Linked DNA regions of Homo sapiens. The main gene of each other region encodes a partner of the protein of the gene in region 2 in a complex. Each region holds a gene or a part of one and is shown on either strand. Other genes may lie near its edges. A codon is read from its position in the direction of its gene.

What was found. The genes of interacting proteins can lie anywhere in the genome.
Region 1: the proteins of CYBC1 (region 2) and CYBB are in contact, whole or in part, in a cryo-EM structure (PDB 8KEI), measured with the Homo sapiens proteins. Residues at the interface, in NP_001028218.1 of Homo sapiens: Arg22 (codon at 1,599), Leu26 (codon at 1,587), Ala37, Ser41, Gly42, Asp43, Trp47, Phe50, Tyr51, Phe57, Gln61, Asn62, Glu64, Lys77, His97, Asp98, Gln99, Val100, Val101, Val102, Leu103, Arg108, Ser111, Glu115, Val117, Arg118, Tyr119, Phe120, Arg129, Ala131; in NP_000388.2 of Homo sapiens: Trp28 (codon at 6,791), Asn74, Leu75, Leu76, Ser77, Phe78, Leu79, Arg80, Gly81, Ser82, Ser83, Ala84, Cys85, Cys86, Trp206, His210, Phe212, Pro266, Met268, Trp270, Lys271, Ile273, Tyr280, Tyr324, Phe326, Lys328, Leu335, Glu336, Trp337, His338.

The regions. Positions count from the first base shown.
Region 1 is NC_000023.11:37,775,334-37,783,219, forward strand, and holds the start of CYBB (NADPH oxidase 2), read left to right. Parts: upstream 1-4,725; 5' UTR 4,726-4,744; coding exon 4,745-4,789; intron 4,790-6,754; coding exon 6,755-6,850; intron 6,851-7,886. UniProt on the Homo sapiens protein: Catalytic subunit of the phagocyte NADPH oxidase complex that mediates the transfer of electrons from cytosolic NADPH to O2 to produce the superoxide anion (O2(-)).
Region 2 is NC_000017.11:82,447,593-82,455,349, forward strand, and holds the start of CYBC1 (cytochrome b-245 chaperone 1), read right to left. Parts: upstream 3,161-7,757; 5' UTR 3,108-3,160; exon of another isoform or gene 2,888-3,107; intron 2,663-2,887; exon of another isoform or gene 1,839-2,662; intron 1,701-1,838; 5' UTR 1,663-1,700; coding exon 1,578-1,662; intron 30-1,577; coding exon 1-29. UniProt on the Homo sapiens protein: Functions as a chaperone necessary for a stable expression of the CYBA and CYBB subunits of the cytochrome b-245 heterodimer. Controls the phagocyte respiratory burst and is essential for innate immunity.

The DNA.
Region 1 (7,886 bases), on a different chromosome or scaffold from region 2:
AAATAGAGTTTTTTTTTAAATTAATCTTTTCTTTATATCAACTTGGATATAATTAGGCAAAAATTGGGAAAATATGTGTCATATCTAATATCAGTTTCTCACAGTGCCAAATTAATTAACTAGAATAATGGTGATTAAACTCTATAGACTACTTGATTATTGCAGAGGAATATAATTTTTAATTTAAGCTTTCAAGAATAAATCTTAGACTGCAAAATCAGGGAATTTTCTGGATTTGGGTCTACTTCTCTTCTCTCATTTTTTTCTCAACCAGAGATGTTTGGGATTTCAATCACAAGTGTGAGGATATTGGACATTACTGCATAATGGGTATGGTGAGTACTTCCTTATGTTCACCACAGTCTAGTTTGCTACTAACAGCTTAGGAGAGAATGAAAGCCAATGAGGGTGGGAGAAGATAAACTGTTAGCTAATGCATACAGGTTCAGTTTTCTTCATCTCCATGTCTAGTCAATGCCTTTCAACTAATACCTGTTACTCTTTCATCAAACTTTCTGCCTGCCTTTCTAAGAGCAGTGCACATTACATTTTACTTAGCCAGTGTTCTCAAAAGGGAAGTTAGTAACTTTCTGTAAAAGAAAGACTTTACTCTTCATTGCAACTGATCTCTCTCTCTCCCACTGTAAAACTGATTGAGGTGCTTAAGGTTCTCAAGAAATTGCTACTCATAGCCCTGTGATTACTTTTATAAAGGCGGGGGGGAGGGGAAATCAGTAGAATGGAATGGTTGATTACTCAGGGAAAAGATTCTTTCTTTTTTGAATTTTCTTCTCAAATTATGGAGGGAAGGAAAGGGAGTGGGAAAATGTTCAAGAAATAAGTTTATGTGAAACTGGGAATGTTATTTCCTGGTATATGCAGATTAATGATCCCTTTGTCATTGCCTCCCCAGCAGAGCACAGGCTTCAGGAGGCAGGTGGAAAAGTATGAGAAAGGCTTGAAAATTTAAGTGGGATAAAGGAAGATGATCCAATAGGCAGAGAAAGAGAACAGTGGGGATAAGTACAGAGGAAAAGACTGATGAGTTCCAAGAGCTTATGGTGAAGCAGTCATCTTTGTAGAGGAGTTTGAGAGTGGCAGAGATGAGGAGAGAAAGTGGATTTTTAAATATGTTTTATTTTTCTTTGGGTATAAAGGCCTCACTTCTTTGAATACATGAAAAAAATAAGTACAGATATGAGTAACTTTTTTGTTTCAGTCAAAAAACAGAAACCACTGTATTTCAACAGGGGGAATTTCATACCAGGAAATTTGTTACATGGATTATGGAAAAGTAGAGAATCCCAACATGGGGTGCAGAGGCAACATAATATAAAGATGAACAACTACAGGAAGTGGTTACCACCCTAGGGGTTAGAGGGAAACTAGGAGGTGGTGGTGTAACTTGAGTTCAGAAGCCAGGGCCACCTGGCAGAATCTTGAGCTACAGTGGTGATGGCTAGGACTAGCTCATGCCACAGGGGGAGAGGCTGACTGGTGAAAGTTGGAGCCTCAGTGCAGATGCAGCCCCTTCATGGATGCCACTTAAAGCAGAAAGCTCAGGGAAGAAACACTATGGCTTATCTCCTGCTATCCATTCTCCAATTCAGCTAAACATACTAGAAGCCAGAGGGCCAAGGAGCCTGGCAATACAATTTTCTCTGAAACACAGTAGAGCAAGGAAAGTGGGGAATAGACCTGAGAGCAAGAGGCAAATAATTGGCACATGTTTTAATTGTCTAAGTGTGTTTCTTTGAATTCATCTCTGTGTGGAACAGAACCACGAGACTAACTTCTCTTTATGTGGTTTACACATGGTCTAAGAGCCATAGCATTCTAAAAAGTACCTTTCCTTGAATATTAAGAAGTGAAAAACACTACTACTTTGCTAATTATCGTAATTACAGAAGCTTCCCAAGTAGTTCATGGACAACAATCAAAAGAGTACTTATGTCTTTTTTTTCCTTCTTTTGTTCCCTTTCACTCCTCCCATTTCTTTTTTTTTTACCTCCATATTAGCTATAACTGCTGTACAACTACCCTTGTGCAATTAGTCAATATTGATCTCATAATGGGGTTACTATCCTACCTTCCTGTCTCTTTCATGTCTTGAAGAGTGGGTACCAACAAGGGAAATGATGCTACATTTAGCTTTTGGCATCTACCATATCTGACATATCTTTGTGCTGACCCTGTTTACTCACTTAGCATATAGGATGTCATGTTTGCCTGGAAACATGATTGCCATCTAAACATTTTGGTATATTTCTTGTATTTTGTCATGTTTTCCTATAGTTGTATGTGGAGTGATTTAATGTAGGGTTTTTAGTGTAGGCATAGTAAGGCTTTTTTCTAGTATCTTGGTCAAAAGTATAACCAAATTTCTTGGGTTTTAAATCCCAACTCTACTATTTGCTAGTTATGTGAACTTGGCCAAGTAACTGAACTGCTCTGGAACTCAGTTTCCTTATCTGTAAATATAATCATAATAATAGAATCTGCTTTACAGTGGTTGAGTTGTGAGGATCAAATGAATTGATGTGTGTGTGTTTGCATGTGTGTCTATATGTGTAATACACACATATATGCAGTCATATCACTTAACTATGGGGGATTTGTTCTGAGAAATGTATCCTTAGGTGATTTTGTTGTTGTGTGAAAATCATAGAGTGTATTTACATAAACCTGATGGTATAGTCTACTACACGCCTAGGCTACATGGTATAGCCTATGGCTGCTAGGCTACAAACCTTATCGTTTTTTATTGTACTGAATACTGTCAGAGATTCTAACACAATGGTATCTAACCATAGTTAACCATAGAAAATAGACAATAAAAATAAAGTATAAAAGATTAAAAATGGTACACCTGTATAAGGCACTTACCATGAGTAGAGCTTGGAGAACTAGAAGTTACTCTATGTGTCAGTGAGTGAGTGGTGAATGGATAGGAAGGCCTAGAACATTTTTGTACACTCCTATAGATTTTATGAACACTGTACACTTAGGCTATACTAAATATGCAAAACATTTTGTTTTTTCAATAATGAAATAAATTTAGCTTACTGTAACTTTTTATTTATAAACTTTTGCTTTTTTAATTTCTTGACTCTTTTGTAATAACCCTAAGCTTAAAACAAAAAAAATTTTACAGCTGTACAAAAATGTTTTAATATCCATATCTAGAAGCTTTATTCTGTTTTTAAATTTTTTATTTTTATATTTTACCTTTAAAACATTTTTGTTAAAAGCTAAGACACAAACATACACATTAGCCTAGGCCCACACAAAGTCAGGATCATTAATATCACTGTCTTCCACCTCCACATTTTGCCCCACTGGACAGTCTTCAAGGGCACTAACATGCATGAAGCTGTCATCTATGACAGCAATGCATTCTTCTGGAATACCTTCTGAAGGACCTGCCTGAGATTCTTTTACAGTTAACTTTTTTATAAGTAGGAGTATACTCTAAAATAATGATTAAAAGTATAGTCTAGTAAATAAATGAACCAGTAACATAGTCATCTATTTTTACTATCAAGTACTATGTAATGTACATAATTGTATGTGCTATACTTTTACAACTGGCAGCTCAGTAGGTTTGTTTACACCAGCATTGCCACAAACACATGAGTAATGTGTTATGCTACAATGTCACTAGATGGTAGGAATTTTTCAGCACACACACACAAGTATATATATTATATATTATATTATATATTATATATATATGTATATATATATATATATATATAGAGAGAGAGAGAGAGAGAGAGAGAGAGAGAGATGGAGTCTTGCTCTGTCGCCCAGGCTGGGGTGCAATGACACAATCTCGGCTCACTGCAACCTGACTCCCAGGTTCAAGTGATTCTCCTGCCTCAGCCTCCTGAGTAGCTGGGACTACAGGTGCCCACCACCATGCCCAGCTAATTTTTGTATTTTTAGTAGAGACGGGGTTTCACCATGTTGGCCAGATTGGTCCCAAACTCCTGACCTCAAGTGATCCACCCCACTCAGCCTCTCAAAGTGCTGGGATTACAGGCGTGAGCCACCGTGCCTGGCCAACACCATTATAATCTTATGGGACCACTGTCATACATGTGGTTCATCATTGGCCAAAGCATCTGTATTTATATATGTATGTTTCAAATTATATATATATATATATATATATATATATATATATATATGATAGCTATACATGAACATACACACACACATATATAGACATATATAGCACATAAAATTGGCACATATTAAGCATTTTGTAAATATCAACCATTACAATTGTTACTACTTTTCTCAGCAAGGCTATGAATGCTGTTCCAGCCTGTCAAAATCACACCTGTTTAATGTGTTTTACCCAGCACGAAGTCATGTCTAGTTGAGTGGCTTAAAAATTGTGATCAAATAGCTGGTTAGTTAAAAAGTTATTTCACTGTGTAAAATACATCCCTTAAAATGCACTGTTATTTATCTCTTAGTTGTAGAAATTGGTTTCATTTTCCACTATGTTTAATTGTGACTGGATCATTATAGACCCTTTTTTTGTAGTTGTTGAGGTTTAAAGATTTAAGTTTGTTATGGATGCAAGCTTTTCAGTTGACCAATGATTATTAGCCAATTTCTGATAAAAGAAAAGGAAACCGATTGCCCCAGGGCTGCTGTTTTCATTTCCTCATTGGAAGAAGAAGCATAGTATAGAAGAAAGGCAAACACAACACATTCAACCTCTGCCACCATGGGGAACTGGGCTGTGAATGAGGGGCTCTCCATTTTTGTCATTGTAAGTACCAACAAGAGATAAGTTATAAATTCTCTGACTTCTCGGGGTTATCTTGGAACTAAAATAGACCAAAGCTTTTTTGTTCATTTGAGGAATTGTGTTGAAACTGATTTACCATGTGAACCTATATCTATCTGTAAACAGACTGAGTCCATTCTTCCAAATTCCTTAATGGAAAGAACATATCTGGGGGCTCACTTCTAGCTTACTTCTGAATTCCTAGGAGGAATAAATTAGCCAGCATTTCGCAGAAGGAGTAGAAAATATTTCATGCTAATGATCTCTGATTCTGAGTTGTTTAGTAATGTTTACTCAGACGCACATGTCTATGTGTTTATACTACTTTAAAAATGACAAATTGAAATTTTATACCATTTTCTAAATAAAAAATATAAGATTGACTCATGTATGGGAAGTAGGCCTTTATTTCAGTAATTACACTAAATATAATAAAACTTCTCAAATTTATTTTCAAAAACAAGTACCTTCTTTTTTCAGAGATCTAAACTTGAGTTATTTATAAGATTTATAAAAATTCAAAAGAACAGAATTGAAATAAGTCATCTAGATTCATAAATATGTAGTATGTATATTTATATATAATTGTATATATATATAAATCAATATAGTCTGGAGAAACTATGTAAGTAAAGATATAGCTAATTTACAAGTGGACAGAATGATTTCTGTACTTTTTAAAACAAAGAAAATCAACTGTTCTCTTAAAATGGTGTTATCAGCAAAGCAATAATGGACAAATTGGGTAGATAGAAATACGATTTTTAAATAGCCTTTCTAAATAACCAATAGAAGCATTACACAGATGTTAAAAAGTACAATTATGAATGGAATATGAATGGAGCTTTTGTAAAAATTTATCATGAAAAATAATGAGTCTTTGAGTTTTAAATATAGAAAGCAATTAGTGGCACAAATAAAAACAACAAATATTTTGTTATAAAAAATGTTTACGCCAAACCAACATTCTACTGCAACAGAGAATTCTTCCGAGTATTCGAAGCTGTAAACTTAACTTCTTATCACCATTTTTAAGGGCAAATAATTTCTATAGAAAGTAAGTTCAAATTAAACTTTTAGCTCTCGCCACAATTTTTCCCAGGAAATGACCTCCTTCTAAATTATATACTCATGCACTTGAAAGTGAAAACACAGCTTGGAAAGTCAGAGTAAAGAAAGAATGACAAGATCAGGAAATTGGGAAGTTGCTTTAGCACTTTTTTCTTTGTAAAGAGAGAATATTATCAAGTGTCTAGAGCATATAATAGCTTCAAAGCATAGTTGAGAAAAGATCACTATGGAGCTGAAGGTAGAGAACTGGGTAGTGTGACCACTTGATCCAGTCAGTGCTTAGGATAAAATGAACTGTCATGATCTAGAAAGCTGTTTTTGTTGTAAATCCCAAGCCCCTCACTATGCTCAATATTCTCTCCTTGAAGCATTAAGTAAAACTAATCAAGGAAAATGGAAGGCTTGGCATTTTAGCTGATGAGAATTCACTAGCTGGATTACTGTGTGGTAGAGGGAGGTGATTAGCACCTGTGAGAACAGAACGCAGTGTCATACTGGTGGAGGGAAAGCAATAGTAATATGTTCCCTTCCTTTCTCATTTTAAGTGGAGTGGCCTGCTATCAGCTACCTATCCAAGGTTAAGCAAAAGAGAGGGGAAAAAAAGGGAGTGGGGTAATGTAAGACTGATAATTTGGTATACTGGCCAAATCATAAAACAATCATGGGGAACAACACAGGGTGGAGAGGTTTTAATTATAGACAAGTGTAGTGACACTGTTGAGGAAAGAGCTGGCTCTAAGCTGGTTATATCCAGCTTTGTCACTACCTTTGTCAAAGTTGGACTTGGGGAAGTCCTGACCCTTATCTGACTCCAGTCTTGTGTGGAATCTACTGTGGAAATGCGGAAACTTCATGCAATTATTTCTGTTTGTGCAGCTGGTTTGGCTGGGGTTGAACGTCTTCCTCTTTGTCTGGTATTACCGGGTTTATGATATTCCACCTAAGTTCTTTTACACAAGAAAACTTCTTGGGGTAAGTATAAATTCCATCCCATGCAATATTGGCTGGTTCACATTTCTCATCAGACATTCTTGTTCATCTTCCTGTTAGCATTTTAAATACATATTCTGACCAACCCAAACAGTACCATTAGCCTCACTCCCTCCATTGCAACTTCCTGGGCAACAGTCACTTAAAGCCTTCCAGTCTGGGACCAACAAAAGTGGGGCAGAGGGCCCCAGTGGCATCCTTCCCCAACCAAGAACCATGTGCCATTGTTTAGCTTAAAGGAGAAATCTAATACTCACTCTGAAATGGAAGGGCAGGTTGGAGCAATCCATCCAGGAGTGACACATGTGGGACAAGTGGGACTTTCCATATTTTCTAAGTCACCTAATTCCTAGTACTTTTTTGCATGAAGAGCTCTGCTCCTAATCACATGTTATGAAATGATCTTCAGAAAATAAATCTCTCTCTACATATAAAGACTCGAGGAACTTGCTCAAGGGCCACATCTGTTGACTAGGACAGTAGAGTGAAGGCCCTTCAGTTTCCTTGGGTCCTTTAGTATTCTGAGTTTCCTTGAACTGTCAGGCCTCTTGCCTCCAGAAGACATCTGTTACATCATGCTGAAACTATGAATTAATTGCTTAATATTAATTATTATAAGTATTATAAATCATAAATAAATAATTTTAGCATATAATTATGCTAGATCATTATAATTGTTGTTAGCTTATTCACATTGATGCTTTCTCCCGCCAAAATATGCAACTTCTTTAGACATTACAAATATAATAATTATAATGCCAAAGCATTATACCATACCAATTTAAGATACTGTTAAGATCAATTTAAGTGCTAAGAAAATATTTAAAATCTTTAAAAGTCTTGATACTTAACTCTAGTTAATGATATGCACCTTAAGTGTTAAAGAGAAAGTGAACTGTTGTCTGTAACTTACTTTGAAATGCATCAAAAATTAGATGAGTTGATGGATGGATACAGGAATGGATAGATAGAATGTGATAAAGCAAGCATAAAAGGTATAATCTGGGAGATGAATAAA
Region 2 (7,757 bases):
GGCAGCAGCCAGGCCAATCGACAAGATTCCTATGAAGAGAAAGTGACTGCCTGCCTATTGATCCCGGTAAGACCCCACCTCCCTGGTGCAGCGGGACCAGGAGCCACAGCCCCTGATGAGCAGGCCCTTCCCACTGTAGGAACAGCTGTGGTCAGGGGTTACAGACCACCAGGTTCAGAGTAGGGGAAACAGCCAGGAAGCTGGTTCAATAATGCAGTATAGCTGGGCGTAGTATCACACACTTGTAATCCCAGCTACCTGGGAGGCCGAGGAAGGAAGAGCGCTTGAGCTCAGGAGTTTGAGACCAGCCTGGGCAACATAACGAGACCTCATTACTAAAGAAAACAAAAGCAAAACACAGTATACGCTATTCACAGTATTTACTAGACACATCTGCTGTGTGAGGCTCCATAACTGACACGGGTGTTACTCCAGTAGCACGTGGTGAGGCCTGAAGACTGTGCACAAAGAAATTACAACACAGCGTGTCATGCAAAACACACAGGAGGCTGTGGCGTGTCACAAAAAAGGTGGGCCCCAGCTGCTGAGGTACAGCCAGCACCACTCCTCACACGGTGTCCCGTCAACACAAGTGCAGCTGTCCCCAAGGGTACAGGACCCTACTGGTGGGTAGCGATGGAGGACGGGAGGCTAAGTGGACTGTGAGTCCTACGAAGAGGTCTGAGGACCAGGGAGGAGGAGACATGGGAACCCACGATCACCCATCACGTGGTTAGTGGACTGTGAGTCCTACGAAGAGGTCTGAGGACCAGGGAGGAGGAGACATGGGAACCCACGATCACCCATCACGTGGTTAGTGGACTGTGAGTCCTACGAAGAGGTCTGAGGACCAGGGAGGAGGAGACATGGGAACCCACGATCACCCATCACGTGGTTAGTGGACTGTGAGTCCTACGAAGAGGTCTGAGGACCAGGGAGGAGGAGACATGGGAACCCACGATCACCCATCACGTGGTTAGTGGACTGTGAGTCCTACGAAGAGGTCTGAGGACCAGGGAGGAGGAGACATGGGAACCCACGATCACCCATCACGTGGTTAGTGGACTGTGAGTCCTACGAAGAGGTCTGAGGACCAGGGAGGAGGAGACATGGGAACCCACGATCACCCATCACGTGGTTAGTGGACTGTGAGTCCTACGAAGAGGTCTGAGGACCAGGGAGGAGGAGACATGGGAACCCACGATCACCCATCACGTGGTTAGTGGACTGTGAGTCCTACGAAGAGGTCTGAGGACCAGGGAGGAGGAGACATGGGAACCCACGATCACCCATCACGTGGTTCAAAACAAGTACAAAGGAAAATATGGTGACCTCAGAAAAGCTCATAGAGTATATTAAATACGCTGGGTGTTAGTGATTAAAAGGGGACAAAACAGACATGCATTATCTGTAAAACCAAGTACACCAGATAGAATTTGAATGGATACAAAGAAACAAAATAGCCATTAGATTTCAAGGTAATAGAAAAAAGAGAAAATATTTTGTTTCATTTTCATCCTTTTTGAAAGTCAGGCTTCCGGTTCTGGGGTTCTGGGGAGGGACGTGGAGAGCCTTACCAACCAGCAGGGACCAGGACCGGATGCCTGGAGCCCTCTTCAGATGGAGGCGGGAGCTGGTGCGGGTCTCCACCTGCAGGTACATCCCGAGAGGGCAGCACCACTCTCTACAGGAGGAGGGGTCTGGGAACAGACAGAGGCAGCTGAGCCCTTGGGCCTGCACACAGGCAGGCGCCCACGCCATCAGGCCCAGTCTGGAGGCCAAGAGCAGGTCCCCCAACTAAGTCACCTGCAGCCCCAGACACCATCAGCCAGTCTCACCTGGTCTCTGTGGTTGGGCACGTCACTGGATCCCCCAGAGACCCCGTTTCCTGTGTAAGGAAGGCCCTTTTCCGTTCACAGCGACACCGACTGCGCGGGGGCTGTTTCCCGCTCAGACTCACGAGCTACAGCTGCATCACCACCTGCCCCGTCCTGTCTGGAAACCTTATGTCCTGAGGCCGCTAGCCCCCAGCAGCCTTTAAGCTTCTAGCATCTGTGGGCACCCCCTCTCCCCTGTGCTGGCCTCCACCAAGAAAGGAACTGAAAGTCCCATCATGGCTTCCGGCCGTACTGGCTCTCGCACTGGCATGGACCAACGATCTCAGCTCTCTCTCTGCCCTCCTCCACCTGCTGAAAGTTCAGACTGCACAGTAGAGGGTCCCAAAGCGGCCAGAACCGACGAGTCACCAAAGGGGCTAATCTTCCACAGCGGAGTTCCGCACGGGCGCAGCAGCCCTGCCACTTCACCGTACGCTCCCAACACTGGCCCCAGGGACCCCGTTCTGGTAGTTTCTCAGGGCTTTCCCTGTGAAGTCAAATCAAATTTCTGACATTAAGTAGGGGGTTCAGGCTGGGCGCGGTGGCTCAGGCCTGTAATCTCAGCACTTTGGGAGGACGAGGCGTGCGGATTGTTTGAGTCACGGAGTTCAAGACCAGCCAGGGCAACGTGGCGAAACCCCGTCTCCACAGAAAATACATAAAACAGCCCGGTGTGGTGGTGTACGCCTGTGGTCCTAGTTATTCAGGAGGCTGAGCTGGGAGGATCACCTGAGGCCGGGAGGTGGAGGCTGCAGTGAGCAGAAATCGTGCCACTGGACTCCAGCCTGGGTGACAGAGTGAGACCGTGTCTCAAAAAAATAAAAAATAGTGGGTTCAAATCACACAAACCAATCCTAGATGCTGGTATATGACTGGGCTCCCTCCCGGGCCTCAGTTGCCTCATTGCTCCCGAAACACCCGGCATTCCACATCCAAATGCACACACACACGCACACTCGCGGACACAAGCACACGCGCGCTGGCAAAGCCGCCCGCGCCGCTAGTCGCACCGAGCGCTCGTTTCTTTGTCCGGATCGGGGGCGCTCCCGCCGCCGGGGCCAACCTGCAGCGGAACAGGCGCGAGGCCGCCCGCGACGGGCACGGCGGGACACGGAACAGCCGGCAGGCGGGCCCAGGACGCAGACCCCTCCCGGAGTGGGCCTAAGGGTGCCGGGACGCGCGGCACGGAGCGGGAAGGAAGTGCGGAGCCCACCCAGCCCAGCCGCCTACCGAGAGCACAGCGGTCCCCGCGCCGCAGCAGAGAGACGCGAACCGGCGGGGGCGGGGCCGCGCGCACTTCCGGGATTGGAGCGGAGCCGAGCCGACTTTCGGGGGCGGGGCCGCGCGCGCTTCCGGGATTGGGGGCGGGGCCGCGCGCGCTTACGGGATTGGGGCGGGGCCGCAAGCATTTCCTGGATGGGGCGGAGCCGAGCGGATTTCCGGGATCCGGGCGGAGCCGCAGGAGGAGGCGGGTGGTTCCTGCTAAAGAAGCCAGTTTTCTTGAAAAAAAGAAACGTGCGGGGAAACGTATCCGACAGCAAAGAACTTACCAAGGACTATGAACGTCTTGCTAACATAGAAGCGAAACTGAAGCGGTTCTCATTGCCAAAAAAGAAGATTTGAGCATGAATAAGAACAGGAATTCGAGTGAATTTAAAATCCTCAGATGCTCCAGTCTGTAATTCATAATAATGTATTTTTTAACTCTGTTCACCTTTGGAGGATGCTGGTAAGCTCACCCCAGTTTGTGGCCTGGTTAATAAAAGGAAAGCATCAAGCATTTGTCCTGCCTTTATGAAATTTACAGCAGAGTAACCAAATACTGCATGAGAAGAATTTCTCATTATAGAAGTTTTCCCGCTAATAAATGAAGAAGAAACAGTAGGATTAAAACATCACCCTATGAATTAACGGACCTAGGCAATGTCATCAATGACTGCTAATTAACATCGCAAAAAGGTCAGTTAGATATCAGAAGTACACAACACTATGAAGTAGTCTTGCCAGAAAAAATTTAACCTGAATGTGAACAAGCTTCTAGAGTGAATTACTGGAAATGTGGAAGACAAGACTGTACTAAAGGATTCTACAAGGATACAGTCAGCAATTCGAAACCTCAACCATCTGAATGGACCCTTCCGCTTGGCCAAGAGCATTCCCAAGTTATCCTGAAAAACTAGCTCAGGCAGTGATGGGAAGGGGGAGACAGACATACCTCACTCCCTCCTCCCTTTTGGAATTCAGGCACACAGCTGACCAGCATTCACATTAAAACAGATCTTGAGGTGGCCAGGTGCGGTGGCTCACGCCTGTAATCCCAGCACTTTGGGAGGCCAAGGTGGGCAGATCACGAGGTCAGGAGATTGAGACCATCCTGGCTAACACAGTGAAACCTCATCTCTACTAAAAACACAAAAAAATTAGCTGGGCGTGGTGGCGGGTGCTCATAGTCCCAGCTACTCGGGAGGCTGAGGCAGGAGAATGGCGTGAACCCGGGAGGCAGAGCTTGCAGTGAGCCGAGATCGTGCCACTGCTCTCCAGCCTGGGCAACAGAGTGAGACTCCATCTCAATAAAAAATAACAAAACAAAACAAAAACAGATCTTGAAGTTGACAAAGTAGACTCTGTAGCAATGACGCCAAATTCCAGCCTGACTCTGGTATAGGACTACATGACAGATAGGAAGCCTTGGAAGAAATGGAAGTACTTTACCCCACATTAAATTTCTTCGACTTATTTTGAAATAGCCCTGCAAAGCTGTCCCTTGTGAAGAAAATCTACATTCTGTAGCGAATCCCCGTTCCTTTCCAGGTCTTTTTCCTGCTTCAGGGAGAACTCTGATAAGAAGCACTTACAATCTATTCTCTCTGAAGCCTGCTACCTGGAGACTTCCTCTGCTTAATGGAAATCTTGGTCTCCACAAACCCTTATCTTAACCTAAAAACTCCCTTCTGTTGATTCTAGGTCTTTAGACAGTAACTTAACCTTTTCAACCAATTGCCAGATAGAAAATCTTTGAATCTACCTATGACCTGGAAGCCCCCCCACTTCAAGTTGCCACACCTTTCTGAACCAAACCAATGTACATCTACGTGTATTGACTGTCTTATGTCTTCCAAAAATGTATGTAGCCTAACCACCTTGGGTACGTGTTCTTAGGATCTCCTAAGGGCTGTGTCGCTGGCCCTTGGTCACTCATATTTGGTTCAGAATCTCTTAAAATATTTTTCAGTTTGACTCTTTTTGACAACATGGGAAATCCTACAGGCAAATGACCTGATTTTTAAAATGATATATACAAAGAGAAGGATATGGATAGAACCTACAAATTTGAAAAATGACAACTTTAAGATCAGGAACTCTGCAACTTTTTTTTTTTTTTTTTTCTGGACAAAGTCCCACTCTGTTGCCCAGGCTGGGGTGCAGTGGCACCATCTCAGCTCATTGCAACCTCCGCCTCCCCGGTTCAAGCAATTCTCCTGCCTCAGCCTCTCAAGTAGCTGGGACTACAGGCACACACCACCACGTCCACCTAATTTTTTTATTTTTAGTAGAGAGAGGCTTTTGCCATGCTGGCCAGGCTGGTCTCAAACCCCTGACTTCAGATGATCCACCTGCCTTGGCTGCCCAAAGTGCTGGGATTACAGGCATGAGCCATCATGCCCAGCTTGAACTCTGCCACTTCTAAGTACGCCTCAAGTTATGTCAAAATCAAGTTTTTATTTTATTTATTTATTTATTTTAGTATTTATCAATCATTCCTGGGTGTTTCTCAGAGAGGGGGATGTGGCAGGGTCATAGGACAATAGTGGAGAGAAGGTCAGCAGATAAACACTTGAACAAAGGTCTCTGGTTTTCCTACGCAGCGGTCCCTGCGGACTTCCACAGTGTTTGTGTCCCTGGGTACTTGAGATTAGGGAGTGGTGATGACTCTTAACGAGCATGCTGCCTTCAAGCATCTGTTTAACAAAGCACATCTTGCACCGCCCTTAATCCATTTAACCCTGAGTTGACACAGCACAGGTTTCAGAGAGCACGGGGTTGGGGGTAAGGTCATAGATTAACAGCATCCCAAGGCAGAAGAATTTTTCTTAGTACAGAACAAAATGGTGTCTCCTTGGTCTGCTTCTTTCTACACAGACACAGTAACAGTCTGATCTCTCTTTCTTTTCCCCACATTTCCCCCTTTCCTTTTCGACAAAACCGCCATCGTCATCATGGCCCGTTCTCGATGGTCACTGTCTCCTCGGAGCTGTTGGGTACACCTGCAGAAAGGCTCCCAGATGGGGTGGCCGGGCAGAGGCGCCCCTCACCTCCCAGACGGGGCGGCCGGGCAGAGGCGCTCCTCACATCCAAGACGGGGTGGCAGCCGGGCAGAGGCTCTCCTCACTTCCTAGACAGGGTGGCGGCCGGGCAGAGGCTCTCCTCACTTCCCAGACAGGGTGGCGGCCGGGCAGAGGCGCTCCTCACATCCCAGACGGGGCAGCCAGGCAGAGGCGCTCCTCACATCCCAGACGATGGGTGGCCGGGCAGAGACACTCCTCACTTCCTAGACAGGGTGGCGGCTGGGCAGAGGCTGTAATCTTAGCACTTTGGGAGGCTAAGGCAGGCGGCTGGGAGGTGGAGGTTGTAGCGAGCCGAGATCACGCCACTGCACTCCAGCCTGGGCAGCACTGAGTGAGAGAGACTCCGTCTGCAATCCCAGCACCTCGGGAGGCCGAGGCGGGCAGATCACTCAAGGTCAGGAGCTGGAGACCAGCCCGGCCAACACAGCGAAACCCCATCTCCACCAAAAATACAAAAACCAGTCAGGCGTGGTGGCGCATGCCTGCAATCCCAGGCACTCGGCAGGCTGAGGCAGGAGAATCATGGGAGCCCGAGGCAGGGAGGTTGCAGCAAGCCGAGATCACGGCAGTACAGTCCAGCCTCGGCAACAGAGGGAGACTGTGGGAAGAGAGAAGAGAGAAGAGAGGAGAGGGAGAGGGAGAACAAGTTTTTATTTTTAAAGAGAGACTTTTCAATGTCTTCCGTAAGTTCATAGAAAAAGAGACTTAAGAAACATATGAACCAATTGTAATATAGACTATTAAAACATACTAGACCTTATTTAGATCCTGATTTAAACAAACTGTAAAAAAATATGAGACAATGGGGAAAACTGGACATTGGCTATTTGATAAAAAAAAAATTAAGTGATTATAATTTGTTCTTTTTTTTTTTTTTTTTTGAGACGGAGTCTCGCCCTGTTGCCCAGGCTACAGTCATGCAATCTCGGCTCACTGCAGCCTCTGCCTCCCAGGTTCAAGCAATTCTCCTGCCTCAGTCTCCTGAGTAGCTGGGACTACAGGTGCGTGCCACCATGCCCAGCTAATTTTTTGTATTTTATTAGAGATGGGGTTTCACCATGTTGTCCAGGCCGGTTGCGAACTCCTGAGCTCAGGCAATCCTCCCACCTTGGCCTCCCAAAGTTCTGGGATTACACGCATGAGCCAATACACCCGGCCGTAATTTGTTCTTTCAAACATATTACACTTATGTTTTTATTTCATTTTTTTTTTTTTGTATTTTAGAGATGGAGTTTTGCTCTTGTTGCCCAGGCTGGAGTGCAATGGCATGGTGCTGGCTCACTGCAACCTCTGCCTCCCAGGTTCAAGTGATTCTCCTGCCTCAGCCTCCTGAGTAGCTGTGATTACAGGCACCCACTATCACACACAGCAAATTTTTCTATTATTAGTAGAGATGGGGTTTCACCATGTTGACCAGGCTGGTCTCAAACACCTGACCTCAGGTGATCCACCCACCTCAGCCTCCCAAAGTGCTGGGATTACAGGCGTGAGCCACCACACCTGGCCAGTTATGTTTGTAAAACATTAACAAAAA